Linked DNA regions of Homo sapiens. The protein of the gene in region 1 interacts with the protein of each later gene in a biochemical or structural test. Each region holds a gene or a part of one and is shown in the gene's direction. Other genes may lie near its edges.

Region 1 (3,500 bases):
TAACACGAAAGATATGATTCAATTGAACAATATTATGGAAAGCATTTGTTATGAGCGCTTTAACTCAGAAAACCTTCAAATGTTTATCATTTGAACATTGTATTATTACTATGAACACTGTCTCCAAAACCATCTCTTCACCAGCTCCATCTAATGCCACTTAACTCTTAATTTGGATTTCTTTGATGTCCTCAAATGTATCCTGTGATTTGGCCTATGAGTTTTGGCAATGGCTGTTCTTTCTACCTGGAGGCCAGTTTCTACTGGCTTCATTTTTTATCTCCTCCTCTAGTCCAAGAGCATTTTGTAGTTCCCTTTGCATCATACCATAGGATCCTTGAGGGCTGGGGTTTTTGTCTTGTTCACAACTGTTTGCCCACTGCCTATCAGTAGTGCCCAACCCACAGGAGATAGCCAAATAGATAATAATAACATCTGTTTTCCTTGTTTGCTCTTCTGAACACTGTTGTTTCTTTTTCTGGCTTGTATTGTCATTTCTACTCCAATGCCTGATTGTTTTGGATTATGTGCTGGATATTGTTTTGGAAAAAGGAACTTGTGGAAATAAATGGAGGCCTAAATGATTCACACAGAATTTTCTTTTGGTTCTGCCAGGTATCTGGTTAAAGTCTAGTATTAAAATACTACTTTAAAAGTTATATTTTTTCCCCTCAACTTTTCATTTTGAACATCTCCAAATCTATATTGAAAGATTTATGCAATGAACTTGTAATATTTTTACCAAGATGTTGGTGTTTTGTCATGTTTACTTTATTATCTGTATGTATGTTAGCATTATTTTTTATTTTTTTCATTGACATTAATTCTGATTTAGAACAGTCTCTGCCTTTTCTCTCACTTGACAGTGAGTCTTGACAACCTAATTCATTTCTTAAATACCTCCAGACTTTACTATTTTAAATATTACAAAAATTGTTCTCTGGTTTCTTCTGAATTACAGAAATCTGAGTGTTGTGATACTAATCTTTGAAATCCTTCCTGTCTTAAGAAAATGTCTTTTTGGATCATAGAGTAGCAGTATCCATGATGGTGGAACCTTGCCTGGCATTTAGTAGGCATTTGATAAATACTTGCTTAATGAAGGTTTTCTGCTTAAGGGCCTCCATAACTTGATCATATCCTACATATTTTTCTTTTGTTTCTTTTTGTTTCCTGGGATAAATCTTCCATTAGACTTAGACTGATCTCCTTCTAGGCTTACCTGTGTTAATGATTTTTGCCTCCTTAGTTATTTATACTTAGTTAAATACCCTAGAGTATTTCTGTCTTTAGAATTCTTAGTTCATTTTGGAGGATATGCCATGTATTTCAAAAATAATTTTGGATGATTAACCAATAGAAAGTTCTGCTTTGTTTAACCCCTCTTCCAGTAGTTCAGTGAGAAGTGATATTATCTCTAAAATTCAACACATTGAGTGTTGGCCACTGGTTAATTGTTAATTCTGAAAATTATTTAGGATTAGATGAGATTGTACACTTGAGGGAGAAGAAAGGATGCTAGAAAAAAAATTAGTTCTGAACTTACCATTAACTGTTTATGTGACTGTATTATGCAAGTGACTAATTTTCCTGAGATCACTTAAACAGTATGCCAGATGATTGTGCTACTGGTTTACCTACTTTTTGTGTTTAATGAGAGCTGAATTTACATCCAAAAAAATGTAGATTTTAAGTATATGAAGGTTGCCTACTTTTAAGGATGGCTGTGAGGATTAAATATAGTCAATTCTCCTTTAATGTAGAGTAATTTTGGTTATCAAAAAGTTATACATTAATCCACAATTTAATCAAAATAGTATAAAATGACTCATGTCAGTTTATAGTTTTAAAATGACACCAGTATTTAAGAAAACATAGACTTTTGTATAGAGGTTCTGTCAAAAAAATTAAGCTTAAGTAGCATCAATTTGCTACTGCTCAAACTGCTTAATTTTTTAACCAAGCAGTTGGTAATTTGTTGGTTGTTAGCCTTTTTTAAAATATTGCTACTTTCAGAGAAACTCATAAAAGCTATAGAAGAGGCCTTCTTCCTAGAACAGTGCACTCTAATCACTTTTGAAGTTAAACCAATGCCATGGAAAGCAAGCTATTCAACAAAATTTTGTGTGTACTTAAGGGGTTCAGGACCTCCCTAAACTCCAACTCGAGTTTAAAAAGACTTATCTAGGGAATTCAGCCACGTATATGACAGATTTTAGCTAGTCTTCTCCCTTATTGCCATTTCATTCCCTGTATCCACCTCCTCCCTCCCTGCTATCCCTTATAATTGATATTGTTGCTCATTACCTGAAGCCCATATATCAAAATCAGTATTTTCATCAACTTGCAAATGGGTGTGAGGCTTTCCTAATATGTAGTACATACAATGTGCTTTATTAGGTTTAATACACAAACACCTGGTCTTTTTTCTCCATTCTTTTGAGAATGAGGACTGTTGACTGTATTTTGAGATACAGATAAAAGTGTTTTGAAAAGCATAAAGCACTCTACAGTATTTTCTGAAAGTGTCATAATGACTTTTATCAGTAATATTTCCTGAGCCCAAATTTTTACACTATATTTTATGCCCACTTCGTTGCAGGGTAGGATATTGACAGAAGGTTAATTTTAATTTGCAAATGATCTATTTTGTTCTGTAAAATATGCTGGAACATTAATGGTAATTTAGATGTATAGAAAACTTGTGATGACTACATGAATTTTATTTTTAAGCCATACAGATTGTAGTTACTCTCAATTTCTTTTTGGAAGCAATGAGGGTATGAGTAAGATACTTCCCATATGGCCACACCAGACATTTCTATCATGTGACCCTTATGGGATTCAATGATCTTGAAATCCTTTAGTTTGACCAGGTGCGGTGGCTCACGCCTGTAATCTCAGCATTTTGGGGCGGCGAGGCAGGTAGATTGCTTGAGCTCACGAGTTCCAGACTGGCCTGGGCAACATGGTGAAACCCCATCTCTACCAAAAAGACAAAAATTAGCCGAGTGTGGTGGCATGTGCCTGTAGTCCCAGCTACTTGGGAGGCTGCCGTGGGAGGATCCCCTGAGCCCAGGAGGAGGAGGTTGTAGTGAGCCTTGATTGACCCACTGCACTCCAACCTGGACAAGAAAACAAGACCCTGCCATAAGGAAAAAAAAAAAGAAAAAAAGATCTTTAGTTTGTGGGGTGTGTCACACAGCATATTATTTACTTTGTTTCAGGTACCTATGGAGTTGTGTATAAGGGTAGACACAAAACTACAGGTCAAGTGGTAGCCATGAAAAAAATCAGACTAGAAAGTGAAGAGGAAGGGGTTCCTAGTACTGCAATTCGGGAAATTTCTCTATTAAAGGAACTTCGTCATCCAAATATAGTCAGGTATGTTGTAATATCTGAATGTAAGCCATTTTCTGCATGCTATTTCAAATATAAATTTCAACTTGGAAATCTTTACATTTGCTCAATTTCTTGGTCTAGCCTTACTGAGTGGACTA
Region 2 (3,500 bases), on another chromosome or scaffold:
GCCACCAAAAGCAGGGAGCCCTAAGGGAGCAGTTACAGGTGAGTGGAGGGTGTGAAGTTCCGTCCTGTCCTCTGGAGAATGTTTCTTTCCTTCTTTTTCAGCACTTGCTTGGGTTTCCTCCCAAAGGTTCACATTCAGACCATAGGGATCCTCGTATCAGAGAAAGCTGAGTTACAGACAGCCCTGGCTCACACTCAGCATGCTGCCAGGCAGAAAGAAGGTGGGAATCTGGGCACCCCATCATCCTTCAACCTGGCACTTTGACAGGCCTTTAGGGGGAGTCCTTTGGGCCCCATCTCAACCTCTCTCATTCCAGGAGAGTCTGAAGATCTGGCCAGCCGCCTGCAGTATTCCCGGCGGCGTGTGGGAGAGTTGGAGCGGGCTCTCTCTGCTGTCTCCACGCAGCAGAAGAAGGCAGACAGGGTGAGTCCAACTGCCTGCCCCGTCCCCTGGCATACTGGCTTCCCAGATGGAGGAGTGAGCCTAAAGGTCCCTTCTGCAGGGTTGACTGTCCTGCCTAGAAGGCAGCATGGGCCATTTATCACTGCTTTTGTGTGTGGTTGCTAGAGGCATCCTGGGGCTGAGTCAGCTGCTGTGGGTGAGTTTGGGGGCACTGTGGGGAGTGAACACTGGACGCAGAGCTCGGAGGCCAAGTGCCCGCTGTGCCGTTACCTGGCTGTGGCCTTGGTCAAGTCCTAGGTGGGGGAATATGGTACTTGTACTGTGAAGGTACAGAAGAGTATCTTTAGTATGTTACCATTTGTGTAGAGAGAGGGAACGTGTGTGTGTATGTGTACCTATGTACTATGACAATATACATAAAACGTGTCTGCATGGATTCATAACAAACTCAGGAGAGAGGAACAGCACGGCTGGAAGATATTTCCCTTCTGCCCTTTCGGAGTTTTGGACTATCTGAATATATCATCCTTTCAAAAACTGAACAAAAGATAATTTCCCCCTTCCTATTTGTGCCCCCACCCTCGGGGAACAAATGAGCTTAGAGAGTCAGATATACCTGGGTGTTCAAATCCGAGCTCTGTCTAAGTGATCTTAGGCAAGCACTTAACCTCTAATATTCCGTGTTGTCCATCTACAAAATAGAGGTAATAATAGTAACTGTCTCATGTGGTGGTTATGAGGATTAAATGGGATTGTTAGCATGGTGCCTGGTGAAGCATTCAATAAAGGTTCAAACAGTGGTAGTAATAATGATAATAACAATAGCAATATTATCTGATCTCTCTGGGCCTCTGTTAGCCAGCTGTAAATTCGATCTTGGCCAGGTGTGGTGGCTCATGCCTGTAATCCCAGCACTTTGGGAGGCCGAGGCAGGTGGGTCAACTGAGGTCAGGAGTTCGAGACCAGCCTGACCAACATAGCAAAACCCTGTGTCTACTAAAAATGCAAAAAATTAGCCAGGTGTGGTGGCGTGCCCCTGTAATTGCAGCTACTTGGGAGGCTGAGGCAGGAGAATTGCTTGAACCCGGGGGCGGAAGTTGCGGTGAGCTGAGATCGTGCCACTGCCCTCCAGCCTGGGTGACAGAGGGAGACTCTGTCTGAAAATAAATAAATAAATAAATAAATAAATAAATAATAACAAAAATTAGCCAGGCATGATGGCGCATGCCTGTAATCCTAGGTACTCAGGAGCCTGAGGCAGGAGAATCACATGAACCCGGGAGGCAGAGGTTGCAGTGAGCCAAGATGGCGCCACTGCACTCCAGCCTGGGTGACAGATGGAGACTCCATCTCAAATAAATACATATATACATACATACGTACATACATAAATTCGCTCTCTCTCCCTGTTCCTTCCACCCTTACCAAGTCCTTTTTTTTTGAGACGGAGTCTCACTCTGTTGCCCAGGCTGGAGTGCAGTGGCACCATCTCGGCTCACTGCAAGCTCTGTCTCCCGGGTTCATGCCATTCTCCTGCCTCAGCCTCCCGAGTAGCTGGGACTACAGGCACCTGCCACCACGCCTGGCTAATTTTTTGTATTTTTTTTTTTTTTAGTAGAGATGGGGTTTCACCGTGTTAGCCAGGATGGTCTCGATCCCCTGATCTCGTAATCCGTCCCCCTCGGCCTCCCAAAGTGCCAGGATTACAGGCGTGAGCCACCGCACCCGGCCACCCTTACCAAGTTTTTTTAAAAACAAATGAGACCAGCCGGGTGCCGTAATCCCAACACTTTGGGAAGTTGAGGCGGGCGGATCACTTGAGGTCAGGAGTCAAGACCAGCCTGGCCAACATGTTGAAACCCCCTCTCTATTAAAAATAAAAAAATTAGGCCAGGCATGGTGGCTCACGCCTGTAATCCCAGCACTTTGGGAGGCTGAGACGGGCGGATCACAAGGTCAGGAGATCGAGACCATCCTTGCTAACACAGTGAAACCTCGTCTCTACTAAAAATACAAAAAAATTAGCCGGGTGTGGTGGCGGGGGCCTGTAGTCCCAGCTACTTAGGAGGCTGAAGCAGGAGAATGGCATGAACCCGGGAGGCGGAGCTTGCAGTGAGCCGAAATTGCGCCACTGCACTCCAGCCTGGGCAACAGAGACTCCATCTCAGAAAAAACAAAACAAAACAAATTAGCCGGACATGGTGGTGCACGCCTATAGTCCCAGCTACTCAGGAGGCTGAGGCAGGAGAGTCACTTGGACCAGGGAGGCAGAGGTTGTGAGCTGAGATCTCACCACTGCACTTCAGCCTGGGTGACAGAGGGAGACTCTGTCTCAAAAACAACAACAGCAACAACAAAATGAGACCATGGGCTTGGAAATGCCTTGAAAACATGTCAAGTGTGATTGAGAGTGAGGAAGTGTTACTGTGGAGTACTTACTGTAGCTGTTGTTACTGGTTGGCCAGCTGCTCCTCTGCCTGCTATATCCTGACTTAACCTTTCTGTATTTACAGTACAACAAGGAGTTAACCAAAGAGAGAGACGCCCTCAGGCTGGAGTTATACAAGAACACGTAGGATGGGGGATGGTGGGATGGGAGGTCTGGGGGCCCTCAGCATGGGTGGTGTGCTGGGAGGTGGGGGGTACAGGTAAGCATGATGAGGTAGTCATAGAGGTGTGCATGTGTGCCCAGCAAAGCTCTAGTGCCAGCTGTGCCACTGACTCATGGTGTAGCCTTGGGTAACTCGTATCTTTTCTCTGGCCTGTACATGTGACTTTTGATTCCTGGGGTTCCTTCCAGTGCCACAGTTCTGTGGTTGTGGGGCAAGGGTAGAGGGTGGATCACCAAAGCAGTCCTTTCTGTTCTTCGTTCATTCCTTTCTCTACTGCCTCTGGCCATAGCCAAAGCAATGAGGACCTGAAGCAAGAGAAATCAGAATTGGAAGAGAAGCTTCGGGTCCTAGTGACTGAGAAGGCTGGCATGCAGCTTAACTTGGAAGAATTGCAAAAGAAGTTAGAGATGACGGAACTCCTGCTTCAACAGGCAAGAGGCTGCAGCCCCATGGGTGGTGGGAGCGCCATCCAGCTGGGGCCATGGT

Evidence for each region. Proteins that work in one complex are often made in the same cells at the same time.
Region 2: of the proteins of CDK1 (region 1) and GOLGA2, one has a biochemical effect on the other in vitro, tested with the Homo sapiens proteins (one study listed by BioGRID).

What each region holds. Positions count from the first base shown.
Region 1 is NC_000010.11:60,781,478-60,784,977, forward strand, and holds part of CDK1 (cyclin-dependent kinase 1), read left to right. Parts: intron 1-3,227; coding exon 3,228-3,384; intron 3,385-3,500. UniProt on the Homo sapiens protein: Plays a key role in the control of the eukaryotic cell cycle by modulating the centrosome cycle as well as mitotic onset; promotes G2-M transition via association with multiple interphase cyclins.
Region 2 is NC_000009.12:128,262,508-128,266,007, reverse strand, and holds part of GOLGA2 (golgin subfamily A member 2), read left to right. Parts: coding exon 1-38; intron 39-126; coding exon 127-220; intron 221-316; coding exon 317-423; intron 424-2,915; coding exon 2,916-2,974; intron 2,975-3,303; coding exon 3,304-3,445; intron 3,446-3,500. UniProt on the Homo sapiens protein: Peripheral membrane component of the cis-Golgi stack that acts as a membrane skeleton that maintains the structure of the Golgi apparatus, and as a vesicle thether that facilitates vesicle fusion to the Golgi membrane.